5 linked regions of the Homo sapiens genome follow. The protein of the gene in region 4 purifies or fractionates together with the protein of the main gene of each other region. This does not show direct contact. Each region holds a gene or a part of one and is shown on either strand. Other genes may lie near its edges.

Region 1 (6,465 bases), on a different chromosome or scaffold from region 4:
GAGGGACGCACTGCCCTGAGGCCCCAGTATGGCCCATGGGGTGGGGAGAAGCCTGAAGAAGGGATTCTAATGGGGGGGGGGGGGCGGGGCAAGGAAGTGGAAGGCAGAGGGAGCCTGGCGGGGGCAGCTTCCTGGAGGTTGAGCTTTAGTTCTTTGGCTTGGGGCAGTGAGTGTTGGCAGGCATTGCTGGGCTAAGCCTTGGCACATTGAGAGCGTGTGTTGGGGATCTGACTCTCCACTTGCTGTGCCCTCAGTGCCACCGATGACTTCAATCACGGCGTGGTGCTGAGCAGCAGAGCCCTGCGGGATGGAGAGGTGTTCCAGGTGCGCATCGACAAGATGGTGGACAAATGGGCTGGCTCCATTGAAATTGGTGTCACCACCCACAACCCTGCCTACCTCCAGTTGCCCTCCACCATGACCAACTTGCGCTCTGGTGAGCTCCCAGGAAGGGCAGGGACAGGATAGGGTTTTGGGGGGAAGCTATCCCCAAAGCCCTGGCACTTGTTCTGCAGCTCCTTTTTCACTTGTCACTCTTGTGACCACTCATTCAGTGGCTAGAGAGTGTCCCGTGGGCAGGGCTGTGGCTGTCTTGGAAGCTGCAGAGTTTTCTTGTCCTGCTCAGGGAAGAAATCTAGTCATCAAAGAAAAGGCAAGGTGGACTGTGGGCTCGGGAGTCCTGTGGGCGCTGCTGTGGCAAGGAGAGGAGCCCTGCATTTCCCCTCATGTCCCCTCCTGCTCCTTGTCCTCCCAGGGACCTGGATGATGACTGGGAATGGGGTGATGCACAATGGGACGACCATCCTGGATGAATACGGGCACAATCTGGACCGCCTCAAGGTGGGAAAGTGGGTGCGCCGCCTGGCGGCCGCAGCGGGCATCACAAACACCGCGGGGCTGATGCAGGACCAGCCCCGGCAGGAACTCTGCCTGACTCCTCACTCCAGCACCCCCTTCTTCCAAGGCAGGGGACACGGTGGGCGTGGTACGGCGGGAGGACGGGACTCTCCACTTCTTTGTCAATGGGATGACTCAGGGCCCTGCTGCCTGGAACGTGCCCCCGGGCGTCTATGCTGTCGTCGATCTCTATGGCCAGGCGGCCCAGGCCACCATTGTGGACGACGTGGGTGAGGGCCGGGCTGGGCTGGGGCTGGGGGTTAGGGTGGCCTTGGGAGGTCTGAGAGACACCTAGAGACCTGATGGGTGATGTCCACTTTTACAGAGGTGGCTCCAGTTCCTGAACCACTCCCTGAGGGGAACAACCAGGTGTCTCCAAGCTCTCCGTCCTCAGGGGCCGGGGGCTCTGACCTGCGCTTCCATCAGCTGCACGGCAGTAACGCAGTCATCACTAACGGGGGCCGCACCGCCCTCCGCCACAACTGTCGCAGCGAGTTTAATGACGCCATCGTCATCTCCAACCGGTCAGTCTCTCAACTTTCATGTCCCCACCTTCCTCCTGCCCAGCCTCAGCCATGCAAGTAGAGCCTCTCTGATCGCCAGTCTCCTGGCAGGGCCCTGCGGGATGGAGAGCTGTTTGAAATTGTCATTCAGAAGATGGTGGACCGCTGGTCAGGCTCCATTGAGGCTGGTGAGGGCCGTCTGTGTGTGTTGGGGGCTGTTGGATGTCTGTGCCTTGGGGATCGGCCTTGACTTACCCCTGCCTCCTCCCAGGAGTGACTGCTATTCGGCCTGAAGACCTGGAATTCCCCAACACCATGACAGACATTGACTATGACACATGGATGCTGAGGTTGGGCTTCCTGCTTTGGGGACCAGCTTGGGGCTGAGTGGAGCTGGCTGGGATCAGGGAAGCAAGGTTTGGGCCTATGGTGGCTGTGGGTAGTGACAGACCTAGGGGATCTACCTGTCCCCTCCCCTTGAATTCTGGGAAGTCCTGCCCAGGCCCACAGGGGCTCAGTCCTCCTTCATCTTAGGCAGTTCTTGCTTTTTCCTAAGGGGATCCCAGGGACAGAGGAGATAGGATTGGGCCTTACACCCAGATCAAGACACCAGCCCAAGACATTGGAGGGTTCTGACAGACAGGGAGTGGGCAGGGGCCAATGTGAAGTTGAAGTTGGCAGGCTGACTCACCCCTTCTGCCATCCCCCCAGTGGTACAGCCATCATGCAAGACGGTAACACGATGCGCAACAATTATGGGTGTGACCTGGATGCGCTGGGCACAGGTGCACGCATTGGCATGATGCGAACTGCCAAGGGCGACCTGCACTACTTCATCAACGGCCAGGACCAAGGCGCTGCCTGCTCGGGCCTGCCTCCGGGTAAAGGTGACTATGTGGCTTTCAGCCTGCCACCCTCAGCCCAGACCACCTGGCTGTCAGGCTTCTGACCTTCCCTCTCCTCCCCAGAGGTGTATGCGGTAGTCGATCTCTATGGCCAGTGTGTCCAAGTGTCCATCACCAATGCCACCGGCCCCATGGACAACAGCCTGGCGACCAGCAACACTGCCACCGAGAAGTCCTTCCCACTGCACTCCCCAGGTGCGGCAGCAGGGCGGGGGCTGGACGGGCTCTGCTTGCCTGCTGTGCACCTGAGGAGTAGGGTTTCCAGGTTAGAGAGGTTCTGCAAAGACGGTTGGCTGGGGTAGCTGCCGGCTCCAGGGAAGGGACAGCCCACGGTGGCAAGCAGCCAGTGAGGGGGAGGTTACACCTGGTACTTAGAGCCTGGACACTTCCCTGCCACCAAGGGGCCAGGACACCATAAGCTGAGCATGCCAGGTTTGGAAATGGGCCTTGCTGTGGTGAAAAGAGGTATCAGGGCCGGGCGCAGTAGCTCACGCCTGTAATCCCAGCACTTTGGGAGTTCAAGGCAGGTGGATCTCTCGAGCACAAGAGTTTGAGACCAGCCTGGGAAACATGGCGAAACCCCGTCTGTACCAAAAATACAAAATGTAGGCAGGTGTGGTGGCATGCACCTGTGGTCCCAGCTACTTGAGAGGCTGAGGTGGGAGGATAGCTGGATCCCAGGAAGTCGAGGCTGCAGTGAGCCACGACTGTGCCCCTGCACTCCAGCCTGAGTGACAGAGCGAGACTCTGCCTCAACAAAATACAATAAAGAGGTGTCAGGAGGCCCTGAGGTGTAATGGCAGATGGCAGATGGGGCGTTGGCATCCCCATTTCGTTTCATCTGAAAGCTTTGCTCTGTGTTCTGCCTGAAGCTCGCTGCCCCAATCCTACCCCTTCTACTGGTGCCATCTCTTCACAGTGGCTGGCGTGGCTCACCGATTCCACAGTACTTGCGGCAAGAACGTCACTCTAGAGGAGGATGGCACGAGGGCAGTGCGTGCCGCTGGCTATGCTCATGGCCTTGTCTTCAGTACCAAGGAGCTGAGGGCTGAGGAAGTCTTTGAGGTAGGCCGTAGTGATGTGACAGAGGGGCTGCGAGGCCCATCACGACAGGGCCAGCTTATGTTTTCTCTGTCTCGTAGGTGAAAGTGGAAGAGCTAGATGAGAAGTGGGCAGGTTCCCTGCGGCTGGGGCTGACCACACTAGCACCGGGGGAGATGGGACCCGGGGCAGGCGGTGGTGGCCCAGGGCTGCCTCCTTCCCTGCCAGAGCTCCGGACGAAGACCACTTGGATGGTATCCAGCTGTGAAGTGAGGCGTGATGGGCAGCTCCAGAGGATGAACTATGGCCGGAACCTAGAGAGGCTGGGGGTGAAGTGGCTGGCTCCAGGGACAGGGGAGGGGTTGGGAGTGGAGGTGGCAGGGAGAGGTGGGCTGAACATCGTCCGTCCTTGTCCTACCTCGGTCCTAGGTGGGGAGCCGTGTGGGTGTTCGTCGGGGGGCAGATGACACGATGCACATCCTGGTGGATGGAGAGGATATGGGGCCTGCAGCCACTGGCATTGCCAAGGTAGACCTGAACGCTTCCTTGGGTTCTGGGAGGATGGTTGAGGTCTTCTGCTGATCTCTGATTTTCTGGGTCTTGTGTGCCTCCCAGAACGTGTGGGCTGTGTTGGATCTCTACGGGCCAGTCCGCGGTGTGTCAATTGTCAGTTCCACGAGACTGGAGGAGTCAGAAGGCACCCAGCCTCCTTCCCCCAGTTCAGACACCGGCAGTGAGGGCGAGGAGGATGACGAGGGCGAGGAGCATGGCCTGGGAGTAAGAGGCTGCAGCATGGTCTGCTGTGCACATGGATGGGCAGTTGCTGGGCCGTTGGATGCCAGGCCTTTTCTGGGTTCTCTGATCGTTGGGTGGAGGCTCACACTCAGGATCTGTGCAAACTCCAGTGGGGTGGGTCAGTCCTGGCATTGGCAACCCATGCAGCTCAGTCCCTTCCTCCACACCAGGGCCAGAATGAAGTGGGTATTATACCCACCACCCTCGAGTTCCTGGAGAACCATGGGAAGAATATCCTTTTGTCTAATGGGAACCGTACGGCCACACGGGTGGCCAGCTACAATCAGGGCATCGTTGTCATCAACCAACCTCTGGTGCCCCAGCTGCTGGTGCAGGTGGGTTCTCCCTCCCTATCCCCAGCTTCTCTCGCTCCACAGTGACCCATGGCCAACCCCCCTGAAAAAAGGCCTTTTTGTGTGGAGAAAAAGAAAGCAAGCCACTTGGATGAGCTTCCTAGGCTTTTATTCATAGCCTGTAATGAGGGTCATCAGTCAGTTACCACGAAGTCCCTACCTGGTGATTGGTGAGGGAAGCAGTAGGGACAGGCTGGAGGAGTCCAAGAGAAATGCCTGATCCTATATGTGGGAGCAGAGAGGGCTTTCCAGAAGAAGGTGCCTTTTTGCTACAAACTGAAAGATATGTGAAAGTTAGCCAGCTGAGCCCGGGTGCGGTGGCTCATACCTGTAATCCCAGAACTTTTGGAGGCCAAGGCAGGCGGATCGCTTGAGCTCACGAGTTCGCGACCAGCCTAGGCAATATAGTGAAACTCTGTCTCTACAAAAAAAATACAAAAATTCTCCAGGCATGGTGGCACGAGCCTGTAATCCCAGCTACTCGGGAGGCTGAGGTGGGAGGATCACTTGAACCTGGGAGGCAGAGGTTACAGTAAGCCGAGATCACGCCACCGCACTCTAGCCTGGGAGATAGAGCAAGACCTTGTATCTTAAAAAAAAAAAGAAAAAAAGGCCAGGCTCAGTGGCTCATGCCTGTAATCGCAACACTTTGGAAGGCCGAGGCGGGCAGATCACGAGATCAGGAGATCAAGACCATCCTGGCTAACACGGTGAAACCCCGTCTCTACTAAAAAATACAAAAAATTAGCCGGGCGTGGTGGCGGGCGCCTGTAGTCCCAGCTACTCGGGAGGCTGAGGCAGGAGAATGGCTTGAACCCAGGAGGCGGAGCTTGCAGTGAGCCGAGATCGCACCGCTGCACTCCAGCCTGGGCAACAGAGCGAGACTCCGTCTCAATAAAAAAAAAGAAAGGAAAAGAAAACTAGCTAGGTGAAGGAAGTCCTAGGAATAAGAATCCTTAGAGATCCTTACAGAGGCAACAGCAAGGTCAAGGCTCAAACAGCATGTTTTTTTTTTGTTTTTTTGTTTTTTTGTTTTTTTTGAGACGGAGTTTAGCTCTTGTCGCCCAGGCTAGAGTGCAATGGTATGATCTCGGCTCACCGCAACCTCCACCTCCCGGGTTCAAGCGATTCTTCTGCCTCAGCCTCCCAAGTAGCTGGGACTACAGGCATATGACACTACGCCCGGCTAATTTTGTATTTTTAGTAGAGACGGAGTTTCACCATGTTGGTCAGGCTGGTCTCAAACTCCTGACCTCAGGTGATCCACCCACCTCAGCCTCCCAAAGTGCTGGGATTACAGTGTGGGTCACCATGCCCGGCTGGCGGTTCTTTTTTTTAAAAAAAAAAAAAAAAAAAAAAAAAAAAAGAGGGAAAGAAACAACTAAATTAGCGTTTTCTGGTCCTTCCAAGCATAAGAAAAGGCAGCATCCCAGGCCACATTCTGGGAGGTGCAGTATTCCCTCTCTGGCTGGGGTGCGGAGCCTGGTTCTTCCCAGGAGGCTGTGATTATGGAGTAGTTCTTTCTTCCCCAGGTGCGGATAGATTTCCTAAACCGACAGTGGACATCTTCCCTTGTCCTGGGAGTCATCACCTGCGCGCCTGAGAGGCTCAACTTCCCTGCTTCTGCCTGTGCCCTCAAACGGGCAGCCTGGCTGCTGCGGGGCCGTGGGGTCTTCCACAACGGTCTCAAGGTGAGTAGGAGCCAGAGAGAAGGAACAGGACCAGGCCTGTGAGTAGAGAAGGGCTGGCCAGAAGGGAGAAGTGGGCCCCTAGCCTTGGAGGTAGGACCACAGGTGTAAAAGGGGAACAGTAATGGGCAGGCAAGGGCGAGTAGCATTGCCTGGTCAGTCTTAGGCCTGCTGCTTCCTGCGGTGTCCCTGCCATTGAGAATGTGCCAGTTTTGGGGAAGGGGAGGGGCTCTAGGTAACTGCAGTGGGAGGAGAACCTCGGCAGTGGGCAAGCATGGAGGCA
Region 2 (6,465 bases), on a different chromosome or scaffold from region 4:
ATTACAGGCACACACCACCACACCCAGCTAATTTTTGTATTTTTTTAGTAGAGATGGGGTTTCGCCATGTTGGCCAGGCTGGTCTCAAACTCTTGACCTCAGGTGATCTACCTGCCTCGGCCTCCCAAAGTGCTGGGATTACAGGTGTGAGCCACCGCGCCTGGCCTAAGCCACTGCACCCGGCCTCAATATGACTTTTAAGTTTCTTATTACACTGAGAAACACCTAACTATCCTAATAGAATTAAATTTCCCTAAGTTATAAGACACTTGAATTTTTTAAAAAGAGATAATTAAATTTCTCCTATATTTTATTTCATTTATTTTTTCAGTCATGCTCCTTCTGTATCTCCTATATTTTATTATATTACTTACATGGCTTTATTTTTACAATAACTCTTTTTTTCCCTTCTTTTATTTATTTGTTTATTTTTGGAAACAGAGTTTCCTTATGCTGCCCACGCTGGTCCTGAGCTCAAGCAATCTTCACGCCTCAGCCTCCCAAAATTATAGGACTACAGGCATGAGCCACTGTGCCCGGCCCACATTAACTCTTTAATTCATCTGAAATTCACATATGTATACAGTTGAGGCAGAAACCTACTTTAATTTTTTTCAAATAATTGTCTCATTATACCCTAATTCTATCACCAATCATTTAAAAAACTATCTTTCTTGGCCAGGCGCGGTGGCTCACGCCTATAATCCCAGCACTTTGGGAGGCAGAGGCGGGTGGATCACGAGGTCAGGAGTTCAAGACCAGCCTGGCCAAGATGGTGAAACCCCGTCTCTACTAAAAATACAAAAATTAGCCAGGCACAGTGGCAGATGCCTGTAATCCCAGCTACTTGGGAGGCTGAGGCAGGAGAATTGCTTGAACCTGCGGGGGGTACGGAGGTTGCAGTGAGCCAAGATCATGCCACTGCACTCCAGCTTGGGCAACAGAGTGAGACTGCCTCAAAAAAAAAAAAAAAAAACTATCTTTCTTATATATCAAATTACCACATATACATGGGTTTCCTGTGTTACCATTAAAAAGTTAATGAAATCCTAGCACTTTGGGAGGCCAAGGCAGACGGATCACTTGAGGTCAGGAATTCGAGACCAGCCTGGCCAACATGGTGAAACCCTTTCTCTACTAAAATACAAAAATTAGCATGGTGGCATGGTGGCAGGCACCTGTAATCCCAGCTACTCGAGAGGCTGAGGCAGGAGAATCACTTGAATTGGGAGGTGGAGGTTGCCGTGAGCTGAGATCATGCCACTGCACTCCAGCCTGGGCGACAGAGAGAGACTCCATCTCAACAAAAAAAATTAATGATCGCTGGGTGGAGTGGCTCATGCCTGTAATCCCAGCACTTTGGGAGGCTGAGGAAGGAGGACTGCTTGAGCCCAGGAGTTTGAGAACAGCCTGGGCAACAAAGCAAGACCTCGTCTCTACCAAAAATTAAAAAAATGGCTGAGTGTGGTGGTGCATGCCTGTGGTCCCAGCTACTGGTAAGGCTGAGGTGGGAGGGTCACTTGAGCCCGGGAGGTAGAGGCTGCAGTGAGCCATGATCATGCCACTGCACTGCAGCCTGGGAAGAGCAAGACCCTGTCTCAAAAAAAAAAAAAAAAAAAAGTTACCAATAATAATAATGGAGGAAGAGAAAAAACACTGGGCCCTGGAGCGAATACTGTACTTTCTTACCCTACCTCCTGCTACCTTCCACTCACCTTGCCCAAAAGCTCTTCAAACTCCGGGGACCATTCCTGCATCAGCGTGTCAATGTCGGGCATGGGCCTAAAAGTATAAAGGTAAATATGAACAAGAAACGTGAACTGATAACATCAGCAACCTCTGGATCAGCATATTCTAGGATGAAGGAGAGGTCTTCAATCTGGCACATCAGGAAGGCTTCAGGAGAACCTAGACTGGGCATACCAAAGTTACCCAGGGCCTGGGGTTTGGAGGAGGTAGCTAAGTAATACTAGAGAAATTACAATCTTTATGTCTACAATCTCAGCCAGTAGTTGCCAGGATCCACAGGACCTCAGGTTGATCAAATATGTTCCCAGCCTCTGGGCCTCTTCTCAGGAGCAACAGTTCACAGGTAGTGAAGGTTACTATGTGTTACTGTTGCAAAGAATGTGGTATTTCTTACCTGGTGTAGTGCACAGTCGCAGGGGGCTTAGAACGGTGTAATTCAGAGATGCTCTCAATCCACGTGTCAATGGCTTTGGGATTCTTTTCTGCATCTTCTAGGCTTTTTACTTTCATATGTTGCTAGGAAAGTAAGGAGAAAGCCTAGCTGATGGCACTGAAGTAGCTCTCTTGTTTTTACAGTGTCTCATTATATCTGCTGCTGTTTCATATTCGAGCTTGCTGATGACAGCTGCTGCCACGTGAAACAGTAGCCAAATGAAGGGGATAGAAAACCCTGATAAAATCTGCTGCAGCCAGGCCAGGCATGGCGGTCACACTTGTAATCCTAGCACTTTGGCAGTCTGAGGTGGGAGGATCAGTTGAGGCTAGGAGTTCAAGACCAGCCTGGGCAACATAGTGAGACCTTGTCTGTACTAAAAATTTAAAAATTAGCCAGGCATGGTGGTGTGTGCCTGTGGTCTCAGCTACTTGAGAGGCTGAGGCAAGAGGATCACTTGAGCCCAGGCGTTTGAGGTTGCAGTGAGCTACGACTGTGCCACTGCACTCCAGCCTAGGCAAGAGCGAGATCCTGTCTTTAAAAAAAAAAAAAGCCAAGTGCAGTGGCTCACACCTGCAGTCCTAGCACTTTGGGAGGCTGAGGCAGGAGGATCACTTGAGGTCAGCCTAGACAACATAGGGAGACCCTACCTCTATAAAATAAAAATTAAAAAAAAAAAAAACCTAGCCAGGCATGATGGCACACACCTGTGGTCTGTCCCGGCTACTTGGGAGGCTGAGGTAGCAGGATTGCTTGCAGATCGAGGCTACAGTGAGCCCCAATCACACCACTGCACTCCAGCCTGGGTAACAGAGCGAGACCCTGTCTCAAAAAAAAATAATTTGCTGAAGCCATGGAAAGGCAGCAGGTCAAAATGGCAGGACTGACCATAATGAAATACCATTTAGGCTGGGCTTGGTGGCTCACACCTATAATCCCAGCACTTTGGGAGGCCGAGGTGGGTGGATCACCTGAGGTCAGGAGTTCGAGACCAGCCTGACCAACATGGAGAAACCCTGACTCTACTAAAAATACAAAATCAGCTGGGCGTGGTGGTGCATGCCTGTAATCCCAGCTACTCGGGAGGCTGAGGCAGGAAAATCGCTTGAACCCGGGAGGTGGAGGTTGTGGTGAGCCAAGATCACGCCATTGCACTCCAGCCTGGGCAACAAGAGTAAAACTGTCTCAAAAAAAAAAAAAAAGAAATACCATTTCACACCTACTAGGATGGTTAGAATGAAAAATACAAACAAAAAGTATTGATGAGGATGTAGAGAAACTGGAACTCTCATTCATTGCTGGTGGGAATGTAAAATGGTACAGCCACTTTGGAAAACAGTTTGGTAGTTCTTCAAATGGCTAAACATAGAGTTTCCATATGGCCCAGCAATTCTACTCCTATGTATATACCCAACAGAATAACAATATATACCTACACAAAAACTTGTATACAAATATTCAAAGCACCATTATTAATAAGAGTGGACAGAACTAGAGAATGAATAAAGCAAATCTGGTAAATCCATACAGTGGATATTATTCAGCCATAACAAAGGAATGAAATAATTACCAGGGTCTAGGAGGAAGTGGGAGAATGAGGAGTGAATAGTAATGGGTATGAAGTTTCTTTTTGAGGTGATGAAATATTCTAAATTAGGTAGTGGTGATGGCTACAAAACTGTGATTATATTAAAACTAATAAGTTGTACAATTTAAAAGGCTAAACTTGCTGGTATTTAAGTTATATATAAATAAAGCTGTCATTTAAAAATAGAGCTGGCCCAAAGCAATAACCATCTCTTTTTTTTTTTTTTTTGAGATGGAGTCTAGCTCTGTTGCCCAGGCTGGAGTGCAGTGGCATGATCTCGACTCACTGCAAGCTCCGCCTCCCGGGTTCACACCATTCTCCTGTCTCAGCCTCCTGAGTAGCTGGGACTACAGGCGCCCGCCACTACACCCTGCTAATTTTTTTTTTTGTATTTTTAGTAGAGACGGGGTTTCACCATGTTAAGCCAGGATGGTCTCGATCTCCTGACCTCATGATCCACCCGCCTCGGCCTCCCAAAGTGCTGGGATTACAGGCGTGAGCCACCGCACCCAGGCCCATCTCTTTTGACAGGCAGTAAGTCAACTGTATGAGTGCCAGCAAGGCCTCCTCCACTCTTGGCCCTCTCCAGCTGGGGCCTATACTAAGCTAGTATCTTACTGTGATGTTGTGCTGCTTAGAATTCTCTGTTAACCAGAGTGAGAGCACCGTAGGGTCTGACTGCTTTGTAGAAGGTTCATCCAATACCAATAGGCCAAGGTTGTCAGGCTTTCCATCAGGACGTGGGACCTGGTTAAGAAAAAGGTAAGAAAGCAGAAAGGAAAATGTTTCCAATAAGTTAAGAGGAAGAACACTTCTGGTTCATCATTATTACTAGTATTAAAAGCATGCTTATCATGCTGTACGCAATACTATCCAGAAAAAAAATATTATCCATAGCAGCTTAAATATGAACCTGTTGTCATAGATAATTAGGAAGCAAATACATGACAAACTGTTAATGTGTAATGAGATATTAAGTATTACTTAAGAGCAATGAGTGTAATTTGGAGTTGAGAGCAAGGTTAAGAACTCCAATGAAATGAACATGACTAGCCAATGCTAGTCAAAGAAATTAGGGAAACTGTTAAGAGTAACAGGGGCATCAGAAGAAACACTTAAGGAGTCATTTTCAGGATGTACTGACTATACCTTTAAGAATGCATCAATATCCCCGACAGCTGGGATAAAATCAGGAATGAAAGGCTTCAGTTTGTGGTCCAGGTCAATCAACTGAGGTGTGTACCTAGGAGATATTGCCAAGGGAAGGTGGAGACAGTCAGAAAAAGTTACTTTACTATTCAGGCTAAAAAAAAATCTAAGGGGAATGGCCCTGTTTCAGACTAGAGATAGGAAAGGTTTGGGGCAAGGTAGGGATAGTGGGGTATGGTGGGAGGTCCTAGTACTCACCTACTGATGTACTGGAAGAGTTCCTTAATTTCAGCAGAAACTGGCAAATGCTCATAGTCTGCAGGGTCATAGGCCCTGGGAAAAGGAAAACAGTTTGTTCGAGGTGGCCAGAGAAGAGCAGAGGTGGCAGGGTCCTAGGTGCTGGTGTGTTACTGACTATAGGGACATGATCCTGAAGCTAGCTTCTGCCTCTCCAATATCTGCCTTTCCTGGTGGCTTGCAAGGCAACTTTAAGGTTGATTGTACTTAACTCTCAATTATCTCTGACTCTGAAGGACAGAGGTGCAGAAAATCCAAAACATAATATTTTTTTGATGTTAAAATGTAGCATAAATGGTTTTCCTTTTTTTTAATGAAAGGATGACAAGAAAAGGTAGAACAAGAGATTTTAGGGCTGGGCGTGGTGGCTCACACCTGTAATCCCAGCACTTTTGGAGGCCGAGGCAGGCGGATCACCTGAGGTCAGGAGTTCAAGACCAGCCTGGCCAACATGGTTGAAACCCTATCTCTACTGAAAATACAAAAATTAGCCAGGTGTGGTGGTGCACACCTGTAGTCGCAGCTACTCAGGAGGCTGAGGCAGAAGAATCACTTGAACCTGGAAGGCAGAGGTTGCAGTGAGCCAAGATCGCACCACTGCACTCCAGCCTGGGTGACAAAGCAAGACTCTGTCTCAAAAAAAAAAAGAGATTTAAATATCTGACATGAAAATAGTTTGCACCAGAAAAAAAAAATTATAGAAGTGTTTTTAGCAGTGTTATTATTATTTTTTAAATTTAATTAATTTATTTTTGAGACAGGGTCTCACTCTGTTGACCAGGTTGGAGTGCAGTGACCCGATCATAGCTCATTGCAGTCTCAAACTCCTGAGCTCAAGTGATTCTCCTGCCTCAGCCTCCCGAGCAGCCGGGACTATGGGCACACACCAGCATGCTCAGCTAATTTTTAAAAAATTTTTGGGCGGCCGGGTGCAGTGGCTCACGCCTGTAATCCCAGCACTTTGGGAGGCCGAGGCGAGCGGATCACGAGGTCAGGAGATCGAGACCATCCTGGCTAACACGGTGAAACCTCGTCTCTATTAAAAATACAAAAAAAATTAGCTGGGCGTGGTGGCGGGCACCTGTAGTCCCAGCTACTCAGGAGGCTGAGGCAGGAGAATGGCGTGAACCCAGGAGGCGGAGCTTGCAGTGAGCCGAGATCACGCCACTGCACTCCAGCCTGGGCGATAGAGCAAGACTCTGTCTCAAAAAAAAAATAAAATTTTGTAGAGACGAGGTCTTGCTATGTT
Region 3 (6,465 bases), on a different chromosome or scaffold from region 4:
TGGCTAGAGCAATCAGACAACAAAAAGAAATAAAGGGCATCCAAACTGGAAAGGAAGAAGTCAAATTAACTCTGTTTGCAGATGATATGATCTTATATTTGGAAAAACCTAAAGACTCCACCAAAAAAACTATCTGAACTGATAAATAGTAAATTCAGTAAAACTCAGAAAAATTGCAGGATACAAAAATCAATAGCATTTCTATATGCTAACAGGGAACAACATGAAAAAAATCAAGAAAGTTATCCCATTTACAATAGCTACAAATAAAATAAAATACCTAGGAATTAACCCAAGAAGTGAAAGATCTCTACAATGAAAACTATAAAACACTGATGCAATGAACTGAAGAGAACAACAAAAAATAGAAAGATATTCCATGTTCATGGATTGGAAGAATCAACATTGTCAAAATATCCAGAATATCCAAATTAATCTACAAATTCAATGCAATCCTTGTCAAAATATCAATGACATTCTTCTCAAAAATAGAAAAAAAAATCCTAAAATTTATATAGAACCATAAAAGATCTAGGATAGCCAAACCCATCCTGAATTAAAAAAAAAAGGAAAAGAAAAAGAAAAGCATACTGGCATAAAAACAGAATAGAGAACCCAGAAATAAATCCATATATCTAGAGTGAACACATTTTTGACAAAGATGCAAGGAACATACACTGAGGAAATGCCAGTTTCTTCAATAAATGGTACTGGGAGAACTGGATATCCATAGACAAAAGAATGAAACTAGACCCATATCTCTCACCATATACAAGAATCAAATCAAAATGGATTAAAGACTTAAGACCTCAAACTATGAAACTACTAAAAGAAAACACAGGGGAAATTATCCAGAACATTGGTCTAAGCAAAGATTTCTTGAGTAATATCCCACAAGCAAAGGAAACCAAAGCAAAAATGAACAAATAGAATCACATCAAGTTAAAAAGCACCTGCACAGCAAACAATCAACAAAGTGAAGGGACAACCAACATAATAGGAGAAAATATATGAAAACTATTCATCTGACAAGAAATTAATAAACAGAATATATAAGGTGCTCCAACAACTCACTAGCAAAAAAATCTAATAATACAATAAAAAACGGGCAAAAGGTCTGAATAGACAACTTCTCAAAAGAAGATATACAAACGTCAAACAGGTATACGAAAAGGTGCTCAACATCACTGATCATCAGAGAAATGCAAATCAAAACTACAGTGAGATATCATCTCACTCCAGTTAAAACGACTTTTATCCAAAAGAAAGGCAATAGCAAATGCTGACAAATATATAAAGAAAAGGGAACCTTTGTACAGTGTTGGGGGGAATGTAAGTTAGTATAACTACTATGGAGAACAGTATGGAAGTTCCTCAAAAAACTAAAAATAGAACTATCATATGATCCAGCAATCCCACTGCAAAAGGAAAGAAATCATTATTTCAAAAAGATACCTGCATTCCTATGTTTATCACACTACTTGCCACAATAGCGAATATATGAAAAAAAAACCTGACTGTCCATCAATGGAGATGGAGGGCTACGTAAAGAAAATGTGGTATACATGTATATACATATATATACACACACACATATACACATATATATATATACACATACTATGAAACACTACTCTGCCATAATAAAGAAATCATGTCTTTTGCAGCAATATGGTTGGAACCAGAGGCCATGATCCTAAGTGAAACAATTCAGAAAGAGAAAGTCAAATACCGCATGTTCTCACTTATAAGTGGGAGCTAAACAATGGGTACATACGGACATACAGAGTGAGATAACAGACACTAAAGATTACAAAAGATGAGTGGGAGGAAGGTGAGGGTTGCTAAATTACATATTGGGTACAGTGTTCACTATTCAGGTGATGGGTACACTAAAAGCCCACACTTCATCATTACATAATATATGCATGTAAGACAACTGACCTACCCCATGAATACATACAAATTTTAAAATTTTACAAATAAACAGATAACGTGCCTGGCAAATAGTAGGTGGCCAATAAATGTCAGATTCTTTTTATAAATATTTAATTATCAATTTTTACTGGAATAAAAGAAAAAGATACCCTTACTATCCTATGTATGAAGACTTCAGAAAAATTATTTCAGTCTAAGTTGATGACGATGTCCTAATATTATTACCTGAAACTCTAGAAAAAAAATCTGAAAACTTTAGGAAAATCTGACTTTAACAAAATTATTCCCTCCAAAAAATGCTGCTCTTCTTATGAGTTAACCATAGGACCCAACATTATCTGTAGTTTGCACTTAGCCTACTGTAGGAGGTTGAGTATTGGCCCTCTGCACCTTCTCAGTTGAAATCACCTGTGTGAAAATCAGATAAATTTATGGACATTTTTGTCTATTCATTTATTTCCATTTCAATTCTATGTATTTATAAATTTATGTTTTCTATGTTAAATTGATATCACTTTTAAACTTTTGTTAAAGTATATTATTTTCTGAAATATCTTGAAAGTAGTTTGTAATGACTATCTAACAGCCTTTATAGGGATATACATATCATTATTTAAGATTCACCTGTTGTAAGTCTTCTAGGTTGTTTCCCAATTTTTACATTATAATGATAACGAAAATGTAATAATTATCTTTACAGGATATCCTTCTGCTTAGAATATCAACTCATAAACTTCATCTAACTTTTCCTCATATGATGTGTTTCTCTTATTCACTATTTATGACACACTCTCTTATATTAAGCTCTTTAACATTTACTAGAGTTTACCTCCAGGTGCCGTGGCAATCAGAATATTGTTTCACTCATTGTCTATAACATATTTTACATTAGAGTACTGTACTTTTTCTTATTTTTGTGGTATTGTTCTAGATGAGTTTTAGAATAGTTTTATAATATTACCCCTAGCATCAAAAGAAATGTCATGAAATTTTGATTGGACATAAGGCTTGTGGTCTTAATACAGAAAGAGCACTTAAAAATTAGTAAAGTTTACAACAAATGGAAGAACATTCCATGCTCACGGGTAGGAAGAATCAATATCATGAAAATGGCCATACTGCCCAAGGTAATTTATAGATTCAATGCCATCCCCATCAAGCTACCAATGACTTTCTTCACAGAATTGGAAAAAACTACTTTAAAGTTCATATGGAACCAAAAAAGAGCCCGCATCGCCAAGTCAATACTAAGCCAAAAGAACAAAGCTGGAGGCATCACACTACCTGACTTCAAACTATACTACAAGGCTACAGTAACCAAAACAGCATGGTACTGGTACCAAAACAGAGATATAGATCAATGGAACAGAACAGAGCCCTCAGAAATAACGCCGTATATCTACAACTATCTGATCTTTGACAAACCTGAGAAAAACAAGCAATGGGGAAAGGATTCCCTATTTAATAAATGGTGCTGGGAAAACTGGCTAGCCATATGTAGAAAGCTGAAACTGGATCCCTTCCTTACACCTTATACAAAAATCAATTCAAGATGGATTAAAGACTTAAACGTTAGACCTAAAACCATAAAAACCCTAGAAGAAAACCTAGGCATTACCATTCAGGACATAGGCATGGGCAAGGACTTCATGTCTAAAACACCAAAAGCAATGGCAACAAAAGCCAAAATTGACAAATGGGATCTCATTAAACTAAAGAGCTTCTGCACAGCAAAAGAAACTACCATCAGAGTGAACACGCAACCTACAAAATGGGAGAACATTTTCGCAACCTACTCATCTGACAAAGGGCTAATATCCAGAATCTATCTACAATGAACTCCAACAAATTTACAAGAAAAAAACAAACAACCCCATCAAAAAGTGGGCGAAAGACATCAACCGACACTTCCCAAAAGAAGACATTTATGCAGCCAAAAAACACATGAAACAATGCTCATCATCACTGGCCATCAGAGAAATGCAAGTCAAAACCACAATGAGACACCATCTCACACCAGTTAGAATGGCGATCATTAAAAAGTCAGGAAACAACAGGTGCTGGAGAGGATGTGGAGAAATAGGAACACTTTTACACTGTTGGTGGGACTGTAAACTAGTTCAACCATTGTGGAAGTCAGTGTGGCGATTCCTCAGGGATCTAGAACTGGAAATACCATTTGACCCAGCCATCCCATTACTGGGTATATACCCAAAGGACTATAAATCATGCTGCTATAAAGACACATGCACACGTATGTTTATTGCGGCATTATTCACAATAGCAAAGACTTGGAACCAACCCAAATGTCCAACAATGATAGACTGGATTAAGAAAATGTGGCACATATACACCATGGAATACCATGCAATCATAAAAAATGATGAGTTCATGTCCTTTGTAGGGACATGGATGAAATTGGAAATCATCATTCTCAGTAAACTACCGCAAGAACAAAAAACCAAACACCGCATATTCTCACTCATAGGTGGGAATTGAACAATGAGATCACATGGACACAGGAAGGGGAATATCACACTCTGGGGACTGTTGTGGGGTGCGGGGAGAGAGGAGGGATAGCATCGGGAGATACACCTAATGCTAGATGACGAGTTAGTGGGTGCAGCACACCAGCATGGCACATGTATACATATGTAACTAACCTGCACAATGTGCACATGTACCCTAAAACTTAAAGTATAACAAAAAAATAAAAATAAAAAAAAGAAAAAAAGAAAAAAAAAAAAATTAGTAAAGTTTACCTTTTAATTTTAAGATTCTGATCCTATATATGGTATATATATTATAAATGTTTTTACCAGTTGTCATTTCTAATTTTTTATGGTGTTTTATTTTTTGTAAATTCAGATATATAATAAAAATATTTTCCTTTTCAGTACTTGTTATTTCTGTCATGTTTAGAAAGCCTAGCCCATATCAAGTTTATACAGAATACTTGCCAACATTTTCCTCTACTACATTTATGGTTTCATTTTTGAAATACCAAGTTTCTAAGCTATGTAGAATTCTGATAAAAGGTATAAGAGAGGATTAAAAATACTTTTAAACAAATGGTTTAACAATTATTGGAATGTTCTATTGAATGCTCCATGTTTTGCCAACTAATTTGAAACACACATTAATCATTAACTAAATTCTTATATGCTTGATTCTATTTGAGGTCTATTCCATTTCATTTTATTCTGGCCCCAATACACTATTCAACTAAAATTATTGCAGCTTTAAATTGAGTATCTGCAGGAGCAGGCATCTTCTTCCCAGAGTGTCTTTCAAACACTCTTCCACATTTACATTTCCAGATGCTTTCCAAAAAACAAAACAAACATGTTTAATAATATGCTTATGAAATAAAGAAACAACAAAGTAGAATCTCTTATTACAGAGGGGATTTCCAACTTCTACCACAATATATGCACAAGCATTCAACAGATTTTTGAGACAGTCTCAAAAACTCAAAAACTGGGGTGCAGTGGCATGATCAGAGTTCACTGAAGCCCCAGTCTCCTGGACTCAAGTGGTCCTCCCACCTTGGCCTCCCAAAGTAAATAGATTTGTTTCAAACTTACTGCAGTTGCCACTCGAATATTTCCTGATAGGGGTCGTATCCCAGAAGGAGGCCTTCCTGTTAACCCAACTCCACCTCTTGAAACAGGGCGAGCTGCTGAAGATTTGTGATTGCTGGCCATTGTTTCTTCACTTTAATCGCTGTTTGGAAACAATAAATAGTTCAATCCTTTGATGTCTTCTCTAGCAAGACAATAATGACCCATCATACCCTTACATTTAATTCACAACAATTGTTCTTGCAAACTGCCGTTCTGTGTACCACTACAAGGCTAATTTTGTTCAAATATGACATCGTGCTCCATTTACAACTATGAGATTGTTTCTTGCAACATTCCTTCCTCATCTTTCTATTATCTTACCAAAATGCAAGCCCCTCTATTATCTATTTCTTTAGTATTCTCATCCCATACTCTGGTAAATTTTCTCTCCCATCATAGCCAACATCTTTCTTTGCCCCTAATCCTTTCTCTGCACTTTCTGGTCCATGATTAACTCTTATATTCTGAATCTTGTTACAAATACTTTCTATTTTCTTAACTTTAACAGAATCTTGATTTCCCCTGAGAGTAACACTTTCGGTAGTCCAAGTGTTTTAGCTTCCTGTCCCACAATTTTAAAGAAAAGGAGGTGGCACTTTTCTTGCTCCTCAGGGTCACTTTCAAAACATTCTTCCACACCTTTAAAAAAATTAACAAGAGGCCAGGCGCAGTGGCAAACGCGTGTAACCCCAGCACTTTGGGAGGCCAAGGCAGGTGGATCATGAGGTCAGCAGATGGAGACCATCCTGGCTAACACAGGGAAACCCCGTCTCTACTAAAAATACAAAAAATTAGCTGGGCGTGGTGGCGGGTGCCTGTAGTACCAGCTACTCAGGAGGCCGAGGCAGGAGAACGGCATGAACCTGGGAAGCAGAGTTTGCAGTGAGCCGAGATTGCGCTA
Region 4 (5,473 bases):
GGCCTCTTGGGAACAGTAAGGATTCGAGGGAGGCCATTGTGGGATGGCCTCCTGAAGAAATGGCCCTCTGCTGCGGGCAGGATAGGTCTTCTGTCTCGGGCTGCTCCAGAACTGCAGATAGGTCTCCGAGCTTTTCGGGGACAGGGTGGGACTTCTTTCCCTTGGAGGCGGAGCTTGAGACGGGACAGGGTCTCTGACGTCTTGGGCTTCCTTGGGGAGTGAGAGCTTCCCCAGGGAGGTGGGGCGGGGACTCTGAGGAATGGGGTGGGGCTTCCCCTGTGGGCGGGGCCTCTGACGTCCGGGACAGAGGATGTGGCAGGCCACGTTCCCTCGGGCAAGCTGGTGTGGCAGGAACCCCGCTTCGTGGCTGCGCCTCTGCGGTCCCAGGAGGGCCTGTCGGGGCTTCCCCTGGGCGGGGCCTACCACAGTGATGTGGATCAGCTTGCTGGCCAGGTGCTCCAGGCTGTCCTTGGCCACTTGCATCGCCCGCAAGGCGCGCTCCAGCTGGTCCTTGGCCTCGGCGTGCCGCCGCTCCTCCTTCTTGAGACGCTCCTGCGCCTCGGCTTGCAGTTTCTGCTGGCTGCAGGGAGCCGGGAGGTCACCCCGGGGGCTCAGCCCGCCCCGCCGCCCTCCCCAGAGCCCCGGTGCCTCACCTCACCAGCGTGGCCTCCCCCGAGTACTTGAGGTCTTCCAGCTCCCGCTGCAGTTGTTGCTTCTCCTGCTTCAGCCTCACCAACGTCTGCTCGTTCTCGCTCTTGAGCGTCTCCAACTGCGCGAAGGTGTCGCCCTGGGCCAGGAACCGCCGCACCAACGACTGCGGGCCACCCAGCCCCAGTCAGAGCCAGGGCCTAGGGAGCGTAGGGGCGCTCCACCTCCTCTCCCCCACCCTGCGAACCCTCGCACGCAGGACAGGTGGCCTGAGCTGGCGCCTTTTGCACAGCAATGTATGGGGACACTGTGGGTTGGACGCAGGGTTGCTTCAAGGGTGAGCAGCCCTGGATATATCATTTTTGCGGGGCCCTTTCTGGCCTATATAAGGAATTTGAGTCAGCCCAAACTCGGGGGCAACTGGAGAGGCGAGCATAGCTTCTTTCCAAAATCAAAGTGCCATCAATTTCTGGCCGTGAATCTCGCCCGATTCCGCAGGAAATACCGCCCGTCTTCGGAGCCATCCGCTCACAAGGCCCACATCTGGAAAGGGGCTGCGCCTCAGTGCCCCAGATGACCCCATAGGTGTACTCCTATAGGTGGGAGTCCCGGAAGTCATCAGGGGTCGGCCCCATCGGAGGAGCAGCAGGTTGGCGGACACCCAGAGGGGAGAAACAGGGTTGGGGTCCAGTGTTCACCGGCGGGAACCAGGACCCAAGGGGGACACAGCGGTCTTAGAATAATGCAAGGAAGACTTTACAGTGAGGGACCCGGCGCAGGGACCCCACTTGCCAGGATCTGAGGATGGTACTGGGCGGTCCACTGGGTCCCAGACCATGTTACAGACACTGGAGACAGAACAAGAGACGAAACTCCCAGTTCTCCTAGAGCTGGCATGGCAAAGGAGTTAGCATGGTGCAAGAGAGAACGGAAGGCGAGTGTAGAAATGACGGCGAGTGTAGACAGCTCCTAGGGGTTTTGCTGCGAAGGGCAGCAGAAAAACTGAACGGTAGCTGGAGGGGGAAGGGATGTTTTTCAAGAAAGGAGCAGGTTTGTGAGCTGAATAACCGACCTGGCAGAGAGGGGAGACAGGGTGTGTCGGTTTCACCGGCTTAGGCACCCCTGGGGCCCGTCTGGGGTGGGGGGGGGGCGCGGCGGAGAGGGCTGCGGGCAGAACTCACGTGCGTCTCGTCAGTGCCAGTGGCGTCCTTGACCTTGCCAAAGATCACCTCCATCTGGTACATGCTCCAGCGCTGCCGCAGCTCCTCCTCCTTGGCATGCAGGCTGTCCTGGATGGTGTCGTCGGACTGTAGCAGCAGGTGCTCGCGGTGGGTCTGCTCGTGGGTTGAGGTCAGAGCCAGGGTCAGCTGGTGGACAGCGCTTGGGAAGGAGGCCGGGGAGGGGGATCCAGATAGGGGCCCGCGAGGAACAGGGCTCAAACTGGAGGGAAGGGAGAGGGCAAAAGCTTGGGGCCAGATAAAGGCACCCGGGCAGGTGTCAAGAAAGTGGGACAAGGTCGGGCGCGGGGGCGGTGGCTGTGGCTCACGCCTTTAATTCCAGTACTTTAGGAGGCTGAGGCGGGAGGATTGTTTGAGCCCAGGGGTTCGGGACCAGCTTGGACAACACGGCGAGACCCCGTCTCTACAAAAAACACCAAAATTAGCAGGGCGTGGTGGGGCGCCTGAAGTCCCAGCTACTTGGGAGGCTGAGGTGAGAGGATCACTTGAGCCCAGGAGGTCGAGACTGCAGTGAGCTATAATTAGTCTGAGCGACAGAGACCGTGTCTCAAAAAAAAATCCATATATATATGTATATATGTATATATATGTATATATGTATATATGTGTATATATACCTATGTGTATATATGTATATATGTGTATATATACCTATGTGTATAAATATATATGTGTATATATACCTATGTGTATATATGTATATATGTGTATATATACCTATGTGTATATATGTATATATGTGTATATATACCTATGTGTATATATGTATATATGTGTATATATACCTATGTGTATATATGTATATATGTGTATATATACCTATGTGTATATATGTATATATGTGTATATATACCTATGTGTATATATGTATATATGTGTATATATACCTATGTGTATATATGTATATATGTGTATATATACCTATGTGTATATATGTATATATGTGTATATATACCTATGTGTATATATGTATATATGTGTATATGTACCTATGTGTATATATGTATATATGTGTATATGTACATATGTGTATATATGTATATATGTGTATATGTACATATGTGTATATGTATATATGTGTATATATACATATGTGCATATATACATATGTGTATATATGTGTATATGTGTATATATGTATATGTGTATATGTACATATGTGTATATATGTATATATGTGTATATGTACATATGTGTATATGTGTATATGTACATATGTATATATACATATGTGTATATGTACATATGTGTATATATACATATGTGTATGTGTACATATGTGTATATATGTGTGTATATGTACATATGTGTATATATGTATATGTACATATGTGTATATGTGTGTATATGTACATATGTGTATATATGTGTATGTGTACATATGTGTATATGTACATATGTGTATATATGTATATATGTGTATATGTACATATGTGTATATATGTGTGTATGTACATATGTGTATATGTATATATACATATATGTGTATATACACATATGTGTATATGTATATATACATATATGTGTGTGTATATATGTATATATGTGTGTATATATGTATATATGTATATATGTGTGTATATATGTATATATGTATATATGTGTGTATGTATGTATATATGTATATATGTGTGTATGTATGTATATATGTATGTATATGTGTATATATGTGTGTGTATATATGCATATATGCATATATGTATATATATGTATATACGTATATATATATATATATATGCAAAAAAAACCTATCAAACAACAACTACAACAACAACAACCCAAAAAACAAAAAGGCAGGACAGGGCTTTGGTGAGGGCTGGATGGGAGGCAGCCTCAGGGCAGGTGCAGGGGCGGGGCCAAGAGTGAGGGGGCAGGGCCTTAGGCAACGGTTGGCTCAGAGGCACGGTCAGATTCAGGACAGGCAGTCTAGTCAGGTGGGAAAGGATGGGTAGGGGGGTCACTGAGTAAGGGGAAGGCTGGAGGCCATGTCAGAGCCAAAATGGTGCAGTCGCTTAGGAGGGGAGGGGAGGAGAGGCGGGGTCAGGGATGTGGGAGGGGTCTTCGCACCAAGTGGGGGTGGAGTCAGAGAGGGGGCGGGGTTAGGAGAAACAGAAAATGGGAGAAGGCCTAGGATGAGGGAGAGCCAGGGCATGGCTGGTTTGTGCTGGGCTGGGCTGGAGTCACAGGCGCGCACCCCTGGGTGCGCCCACCTTGCGCTCCATGCGCTCGTTCTCCAGTTTCTTCTCCTCGGCGCGCTTCTTGCACTCACTTATGTAGCGTTCCCGCTTCTTGCGCTCTCGAACCAAGGTCTCCTCTAGGTACTGCAGCTGGTTCTGGAGGGCGGGCAGGGTAGCAGGGAGACCAGCTGGCACCTACCACTGCCCGCCGCAGGGTGCTGGGAGATAGATGGGGGCGGGGGCGTAGGGGAAGCTCAGGGACAGCTGAGGTCAGATTCTCAAGCTGGGAGACCGCGGCAGCTGGGCAGGATGGCCGAGGGCAAGAGGGGTGGCACCTTGGCAATGTCCCGGGCATTGAGGGCCTCTTGGTTCACCACGTGCAGTGCCTCCAGCTCATGTTTGGTCCTCACCACCTCAGCCTCCATGGAGTCCAGCCGGTTCTCCAAGTTGAGGCTCTCGTCCTGGGGCGTGGTGGGGAGGGGTAGCGGAGATGGTGCAGGTCTGTGACTGCTGTCCCTAGCCAAGCCCGCCCTCCCTGTTTGTCATCTCACCCGAGCCCTCCTAGTCCCTACCATTAGATAGGCCTTGAGCTGCAGGTACACGCTGGTAATGTGCTCGGCCTCCTGCGCCTTCATCTGGGCCTTCTCCAGGCGGTTCTCCAGGTTCCGCATGGTCTGGAGAGCAGCAGGGCTGGGCTGAGGGCCCTCCGCACTCAATCCCTCCCACACGACCCTCTGCCCTGCAGGCCTCACCCGCCCCTACCTTGGCCACCTCCGTGTGTCTGTTTTGCGCCTCCGCCATCTCCAGAAGGCGCAGGCTGTGCTGCAGCTGGAGCTCCTCCAGCCGCCTCTGCCGCAACACCACCTGGTGCCGCAGGGCGTTCTGCTGCTTCACCTTCTCCCTCAGCCGGTGGTCTAGGTGCTCCAGGGCCTGCCGCAAGGAGGGGAGCGAAAGCAGGAGCCTCAACACCCTACCCCGACACACACCTAGCCCTTCCTCCCTTCCTTCTCCCACACTGTGGCTTCCAGGACTCCCCTCTCCCGTTTTCTACCCACCTCCCTGGCCACCCCTTCTGTGTTGTTTTTGTAGAGAGAGCACCGGAGTCTTCTCTCTGTCTATATCGACCACCTTGGCGATCTTACACCGGCTCAGGGTTCTAAAAAAATATTTTTAAATTTTTCTTTCTTTCGTTTTTTTTTTTTTAGACGGAGTCTTGCTCTGACACCCAGGCTGGAGTGCTGTGGTGCAATCTCGGCTCACTGCAACCTCCTCCTCCTGGGTTCACGCCATTCTCCTGCCTCAACCTCCCGAGTAGCTGGGATTACAGGTGCCCACCACCACGCCTGGCTAATTTTTGTTTTTGTTTTCTTTTCTTTTTTTTTTTTTTTTGAAACGGAGTCTCGCTCTGTC
Region 5 (6,465 bases), on a different chromosome or scaffold from region 4:
AGACGTGAGCCATGGCACCCATCTGGAATTTACAGTTCTTAACATTAAGTCTCTGATGGGCAAAACAGTTTCATTAATGTTATGGGGAGCTTGTTATGATTACCTTTAGAAACAATTTACATTTCATGACATATAATTACACAGTTTGATTACTTATATAGATTTAATCATCTATGTCTAAATTATCCTAAAGTATTTTACATGAAATATTTATACATTACCACAAAGATGCTTTCTAAAAATCTGAAGTTATCCCCTCACCTACGTTGTGACTTCAAGTCACTGAAAGTGATAAAGCAAATGTGAACAAATATGCACCAGGGATTTATTACAATGATTCATGAACCCAGCTGACAGTTGACAGGGATAACACCCTTCCTGTGCTAATAATCTGTGATTCTTCGATAACTATCATTTATCCTAATCATTAATCTAAATCTTTCCAAAATGTAATAAAACTGAATAAATCTGACAGAAGCATATAGTTCCTCAACATATCAAAACAAAAACCATGGTTTTCAGTGTATCCATCCTTTGAAAGATTAGAGTTCTCTCTAACCCTAACCCTAATTCTGTGACATTAAATTTTAGCCAGATTAGGCCGGGCACGGTGGCTCACATCTGTAATTGAAGCACTTTGGGAGGCTGAGGCGGGTGCATCATCTGAGGTCAGGAGGTCGAGACCAGCCTGGCCAACATGGTGAAACCCCGTCTCTACTAAAAATACAAAAAATTAGCTGGGCTTGGTGGCATGCACCTGTAGTCCTGGCTACTCCAGGGGCTGAGACAGGAGAATCACTTGAACCCAGGAGGTGGAGGTTGCAGTGAGCCGAGATCGCACCACTGGACTCCAGCCTGGGTGACAGAGTGAGACTCCATCTCAAAAACAAAACAAAACAAAACAAAACAAAATTTTAGCCAGATCTGACTTGGACATTTAATTTTTCTAAGTAAATTAAAAGAATAAAACAGTCAGGCCTGGGCGCGGTGGCTCACACCTGTAATCCCAGCACTTTGGGAGGCTGAGGTGGGTGGATCACAAGGTCAGGAGTTAGAGACTAGCCTGGCCAACACAGTGAAACCCCATCTCTACTAAAAATACAAAAATTAGCTGGGCATGGTGGCAGGTGCCTGTAATTCCAGCTACTGGGGAGGCTGAGGCAGAATTCACTTGAATCCAGGAGGCAGAGGTTGCAGTGAGCCGGGATCACGCCACTGTACTCCAGCCTGGGCAACAGAGCTACACTCCATCTCAAAAAAAAAAAAACAAAAAAAACCAAAACAGTCAGAATTATGTATTTAATTGTAGTGGCTATTAACCACATAGTAAGCACACTAAAGAATTAGCAAGTCAAAACATTTCAATTAGGCTGAGTGCAATGGCTCACACCTGTAATCCCTGCACTTTGGGAGACTGAGGTGGACGGAGGCAGGCAGATCTCTTGAATCTGGGAGGTCAAGACCATGCTGGGCAACATGGCCAGACCCTGTCTGTACAAAAAATTCAAAAATTGGCCAGAACTGGTGGCATGCACCTTGTAGTCCCAGCTACTTGGGAAGCTCAGGTGGAGGATCACTTGAGCCTGGGAGATGGAGGCTGCAGTGAGCTGTGATCATGTCACTGAACTCCAGCCTAGGTGACAGTGTGAGACTCCGTGTAAAAAAAAAAAAAAAAAAAAAAATTAGGCATAGTGGTGTGCGCCTGTAATCCCAGCTAGTCGAGAGGCTGAGGTAGAAGAATCGCTTGAACCCAGAAGGTGGAGGTTGCAGTGAGCTGAGATTGTGCCACTGCACTCCAGCCTGGGCAACAGAGCAAGTTCCGTCAAAAAAAAAAAAAAAAAAAAAAAGGCACTGCACCTGACCTAGCATTTTAATTCTAGGGAACAAAAATGGTATAATCAGGCCAAGCACAGTGGCTCACACCTGTAATCCCAGCACTTTGGGAGGCTGAGGCGGGCAGATCACCTGAGGTCAGGAGTTCAAGACCAGCCTGGACAAATGGCAAAACCCCGTCTCTACTAAAAATAAAAAAATTGGCCAGGCATGGTGGCACATATCTGTAGTCCCAGCTACTTGGGAGGCTGAGGCAGGAGAATGGCTTGAACCCGGGAGGCAGAGGTTGCAGGGAGCTGAGATCTCACCACTGCACTCCAGTCTAGGCAACAGAGCAAGACTCCGTCTCAAAAAACAAAACAAGTCCTGGTGCGGTGGCTCATGCCTGTAATCCCAGCACTTTGGGAGGCTGAGATGGGTGGATCACAAGGTCAGGAGTTTGAGACCAGCATGACCAACACGGTGAAACCCTGTCTCTACTACAAATACAAAAATTAGCCAGGCGTGGTGGCGCGTGCCTGTAATCCCAGCTACTCAGGAGGCTGAGGCAGGAGAATCGCTTGAACTCGGGAAGCGGAGGTTGTAGTGAGCCGAGATCACGCTACTGCACTCCAGCCTGGGCAACAGAACGAGACTCTGTCTCAAAAAAAAACAAAAAACAAAACAACAACAACAAAAACAACAACAACAACAAAAAATTAGCCGGGCATGGTGGTTCGTGCCTGTAATCCCAGCTAGTTGGGAGGCTGAGGCTGGATAATCACTTGAACCCAGGAGGCAGAGGTTGCAGTGAGCTGAGAAGATTGTGCCACTGTACTCTAGCCTGGGCAACAGAGCAAGTACTGTCTCAAAAAAAAAAAAAAAAAAAAAGGTATAACCTGATACCAGCTTTCAATAAGCATTACAATATTTAGTAATTCCAAGGCAGGTATACAAGGTTAATAAAAATATTAGCTTTAAATATAAAATTGCTATAATATTTTGCTTGGAAATAAAAATTAATGACAATTAAAATATTTCCAAATTTCCCATCTAAATGCTTACATTATGAAGACATAAACCCACTGGTCAATTCATATGCATTAATTTACATATTTAAGTTACTTCATTTGCTAATCAATTGATTATGTTTTCATAACATCATGTGGATTAAGTAATAGCATAACATTCTATAATTCCTCATAAAGGACAATTCCTCATAAGAGTTGTCAACTCTTAGCACAGGTTAATTTAAGAGTCAATAGTGGGATACTACAGAAAGCAGTTCACATAATTTTATAGGACTGGGGATCAGATAAAATTGAGAGCTATAAAAAGATGATTCTCACTTACTTTAGATTCAAGTTCAAGAAGATCAGAATGGCCCATAGCTGGCTCTGAAACTACTTTTTGTAAAAAATGTAATTCCTTTTTCTTATTTTCTAATTCTTTAGGAAATTTTTCAGTTACCATATATAAATTAAATTTTATCTCCTCCTCTAGCCTCTTCATTAAACCTTTAAAAATAAAATAAATAAATATTCAGCCCAAAAGAGTAGGTACAGTGATATTCTGTATACTATTTTAAATATAAGACCTGGATACGGCATATTTGTTGAAAACAAACTGTATAATATATAGCATAGTACAATAAAAGATTGGCCATTGAAATATTTTATTGTTAATTACAATGAAAATGAAGAAACATAATTTACATGGAAGAATATTTAAATAATTATAGAAAAAGTGCTATTATGACCCTTTCAAATTATAACCTAATTCTTTTATATCCCGCAATACGCAAAAATAACATGTGCTGAGCCAGATACATTGTTGGGTCATATTTTACCTTCTAAGCATTTAAGAGACCCATGAACCAAATGATAACACAAATAAAATCTAACCCAGGTGCTCTTTTATACAGATGATCATGTATTTTTTTTCTTTTGGAATACTTTTAATGCTATATATATACATATGTATTTTTTATTTTTTTGAGATAGGGTCTTGCTCTGTCACCCAGGCTAGAGTGTAGTGGCACTATCTCAGCTCACTGCAACCTAAACCTTCACAGCTCAAGTGATCCTCCCACCTTAGCCTCCTGAGTAGCTGGAAGTAGCTGGCATCACAGGTGTACATCACCACGCCTAGGTAATTTTTGTATTTTTTTTTGTAGAGACGAGGTTTTGCCATGTTGCCCAGGCTGGTCTCTAACTCCTGGGCTTGAGCAGTCACCTGCCTCAGCCTCTCAAAGTGCTGGGATTACAGGTGTGATCCCAGCCTCTCAAAGTTCTGGGATTACACTGTACCCAGAACAATTTATATTTCTATTATAACAGTTCATAAATGATAATTCATTATCATTTGTCAGCTTCAAGCCAATGAAGACATTACTAAAAGCACCACAAGTTAAAATCTAAAAAAGAGTAACAGGCCAGGTGCAGTGGCTCACGCCTGTAATTCCAGCACTTTGGGAGGCCGAGGTGGGTGGATCACCTAGGTCTAGAGTTCGAGAGCAGCCTGGGCAACATGGCAAAACCCTGTCTCTACTAACAATACAAAAATTAGCCGGGCATGGTGGCACATGCCTGTAGTCTCAGCTACTTGGGAGGCTGAGGAACAAGGATCGCTTGAACCTGGGAGGAAGAGGATGCACTGAGCCAAGATCGTGTCACCATCACTGCACTCCAGCCTGGGGGATAGAGGGAGACTCTGTCTCAAAAAAACAAAAGAAAAAAGAAACAAAGTATCTACCTACACATAAATGTTTTAAGTTTTCCATGTTTTGGTATTTTTTATTTTGTAAAGTATTATTAGTTTACAGTTAAGTGGCAATTTATATTTTTAAGATTTTAGTTTTCTTATTTTTGCAGTTGGACAACTATACACACAGATTTTCAGTGAATAACCATCTTGTTTTAAATTCCCAGCCTAGAGAGATTTACAAAGTTTATTTCATATCTTTCCATTTACACATTTACAAATTCTGACTTGAATGTTTTTTGTTTTTTGTTTTAGATGAAATCTTGCTCTGTCACTCAGGCTGGAGTGCAGTGGTGCATTCTGGGTTCACTGCATCCTCTGTCTGCCTCCTGGGTTCAAGCGATTCTCCTGCCTCAGCCTCCTGAGTAGCTGGAATTAGTCGCACACTACCAGCTCGGCTAATTTTTTGTATTTTTAGTAGAGACAGGGTTTCACCATGTTAAGGCCAGGCTGGTCTGCAACTCCTGACCTCAAGTGATCCGCCTGCCTGGGCCTCCCAAAGTGCTGGGATTACATGCGTGAGCCACTTCGTCTGGCCTGGCTCAAATTTTTAACACATGGGCTTTCTGGTTTAAGTAATCTGTGTAATAGATTGCATAATACATCTGGCCCAAAGCATAATACATCTGGCCCAAAGCCTTAAAACTATTTTTAGTTCCATCGTGCTAACCATATATTAACATGTAAAATTTTATTAACTGCAAATTCTAAGTTTTCCATTCATTACTTCACTATTCCTTCTTTTTTCAGGATTAGAGAAAGGAAGAGAAGAGAAAGTGTTTAATAAATCACACTGTAGGCTGGGCGTGGTGTCTCACACCTGTAATCCCAGCACTTTGAGAGGCCAAGGCAGGCGAATCACCTGAGGTTGGGAGTTTGAGACCAGCCTGACCAACATGGAGAAACCCCATCTCTACTAAATATACAAAAAATTAGCCGGGCATGGTGACCCATGCCTGTAATCCCAGCTACTCTGGAGGCTGTAGAGATGCTTGAGGTAGGAGATTCGTTTGAACCCGGGAGGCAGAGGTTGCGGTGAGCCAAGATCATGCCATTGCACTCTAGCCTGGGCAACAAGAGCAAAACTCCGTCTCAGAAAATAAAAAATAGGCCAGGCGTGGTGGCTCATGCCTGTAATCCCAGCACTTTGGGAGGCTGAGGCGGGCGGATCACCTGAGGTCAGGAGTTTGAGACCAGCTTGACCAACATGGAGAAACCCCGTCTCTACTAAAAAAATATACAAAATTAGCCGGGCGTGGTGGCATATGCCTGTAATCCCAGCTACTTGGGAGGCTGAGGCAGGAGAATGGCTTGAACCTGGGAGGCGGAGGTTGCAGTGAGCCAAGATCACGCCATTGCACTCCAGCCTGGGCAACAGGAGTGAAACTCCATCTCAAAAAATAAATAAATAAGTAAATAAACAATAAAAATAAATAAATCACACTGTAATTAGTCAGTCATTCCTATGTGGTTTTCGATTAAATCTACATCCTGACTTCTTTGTCTGTTAGATGACCAGCTTTTCCATCCTCAGGTTCTTAAGTGTACCCCATGTAATTAGAGATGCATGGAATCAAAGACTAAAATGTTTTTAAAGATTTAAAATTCTCAAATAATATTTTCTCTATTTAAAAAAAAGTTTCTAATTCTAGCAAATATAAACTGATTTATAGTGACAGAAAGCAAATCCATGGTTGCCTGGGGAGGGACAGAAAGGCAGAAGGGGGCAAGAGTGAGACATTAAAAAGGGTCAGTGGAAATGTCTGGGGTGATGGATAGGTTTGTGATCTTGATTAAAAGCTGATGGTTTCACCAGTGTATGCGTATGTCAAAAGTAATCAAGGATACACTTTAGGGCATGGGAGGAAAGGGGAAGAGCATTCAGACAAA

The links.
Region 1: the proteins of ODAD3 (region 4) and NEURL4 purify together in Homo sapiens (affinity purification with mass spectrometry, with the first as the bait; one large-scale study listed by BioGRID). This does not show direct contact.
Region 2: the proteins of ODAD3 (region 4) and IFT46 purify together in Homo sapiens (affinity purification with mass spectrometry; 3 studies listed by BioGRID and IntAct, with this or other methods). This does not show direct contact.
Region 3: the proteins of ODAD3 (region 4) and IFT74 purify together in Homo sapiens (affinity purification with mass spectrometry; 3 studies listed by BioGRID and IntAct, with this or other methods). This does not show direct contact.
Region 5: the proteins of ODAD3 (region 4) and IFT81 purify together in Homo sapiens (affinity purification with mass spectrometry; 3 studies listed by BioGRID and IntAct, with this or other methods). This does not show direct contact.

The regions. Positions count from the first base shown.
Region 1 is NC_000017.11:7,318,770-7,325,234, reverse strand, and holds part of NEURL4 (neuralized-like protein 4), read left to right. Parts: coding exon 1-26; intron 27-254; coding exon 255-436; intron 437-754; coding exon 755-840; intron 841-964; coding exon 965-1,127; intron 1,128-1,222; coding exon 1,223-1,421; intron 1,422-1,511; coding exon 1,512-1,588; intron 1,589-1,671; coding exon 1,672-1,750; intron 1,751-2,111; coding exon 2,112-2,287; intron 2,288-2,368; coding exon 2,369-2,500; intron 2,501-3,224; coding exon 3,225-3,370; intron 3,371-3,447; coding exon 3,448-3,675; intron 3,676-3,775; coding exon 3,776-3,874; intron 3,875-3,961; coding exon 3,962-4,123; intron 4,124-4,311; coding exon 4,312-4,476; intron 4,477-6,026; coding exon 6,027-6,185; intron 6,186-6,465. UniProt on the Homo sapiens protein: Promotes CCP110 ubiquitination and proteasome-dependent degradation. By counteracting accumulation of CP110, maintains normal centriolar homeostasis and preventing formation of ectopic microtubular organizing centers.
Region 2 is NC_000011.10:118,550,071-118,556,535, forward strand, and holds part of IFT46 (intraflagellar transport protein 46 homolog), read right to left. Parts: intron 5,253-6,465; coding exon 5,178-5,252; intron 5,014-5,177; coding exon 4,920-5,013; intron 4,518-4,919; coding exon 4,389-4,517; intron 2,266-4,388; coding exon 2,144-2,265; intron 1,783-2,143; coding exon 1,716-1,782; intron 1-1,715. UniProt on the Homo sapiens protein: Forms part of a complex involved in intraflagellar transport (IFT), the bi-directional movement of particles required for the assembly, maintenance and functioning of primary cilia. May play a role in chondrocyte maturation and skeletogenesis.
Region 3 is NC_000009.12:26,961,148-26,967,612, reverse strand, and holds part of IFT74 (intraflagellar transport protein 74 homolog), read right to left. Parts: intron 5,665-6,465; 5' UTR 5,646-5,664; coding exon 5,526-5,645; intron 1-5,525. UniProt on the Homo sapiens protein: Component of the intraflagellar transport (IFT) complex B: together with IFT81, forms a tubulin-binding module that specifically mediates transport of tubulin within the cilium. Binds beta-tubulin via its basic region. Required for ciliogenesis.
Region 4 is NC_000019.10:11,422,048-11,427,520, forward strand, and holds part of ODAD3 (outer dynein arm-docking complex subunit 3), read right to left. Parts: intron 4,994-5,473; coding exon 4,826-4,993; intron 4,738-4,825; coding exon 4,636-4,737; intron 4,525-4,635; coding exon 4,399-4,524; intron 4,220-4,398; coding exon 4,097-4,219; intron 1,983-4,096; coding exon 1,830-1,982; intron 815-1,829; coding exon 654-814; intron 581-653; coding exon 424-580; intron 1-423. UniProt on the Homo sapiens protein: Component of the outer dynein arm-docking complex (ODA-DC) that mediates outer dynein arms (ODA) binding onto the doublet microtubule. Involved in mediating assembly of both ODAs and their axonemal docking complex onto ciliary microtubules.
Region 5 is NC_000012.12:110,140,246-110,146,710, reverse strand, and holds part of IFT81 (intraflagellar transport protein 81 homolog), read right to left. Parts: intron 3,330-6,465; coding exon 3,166-3,329; intron 1-3,165. UniProt on the Homo sapiens protein: Component of the intraflagellar transport (IFT) complex B: together with IFT74, forms a tubulin-binding module that specifically mediates transport of tubulin within the cilium. Binds tubulin via its CH (calponin-homology)-like region.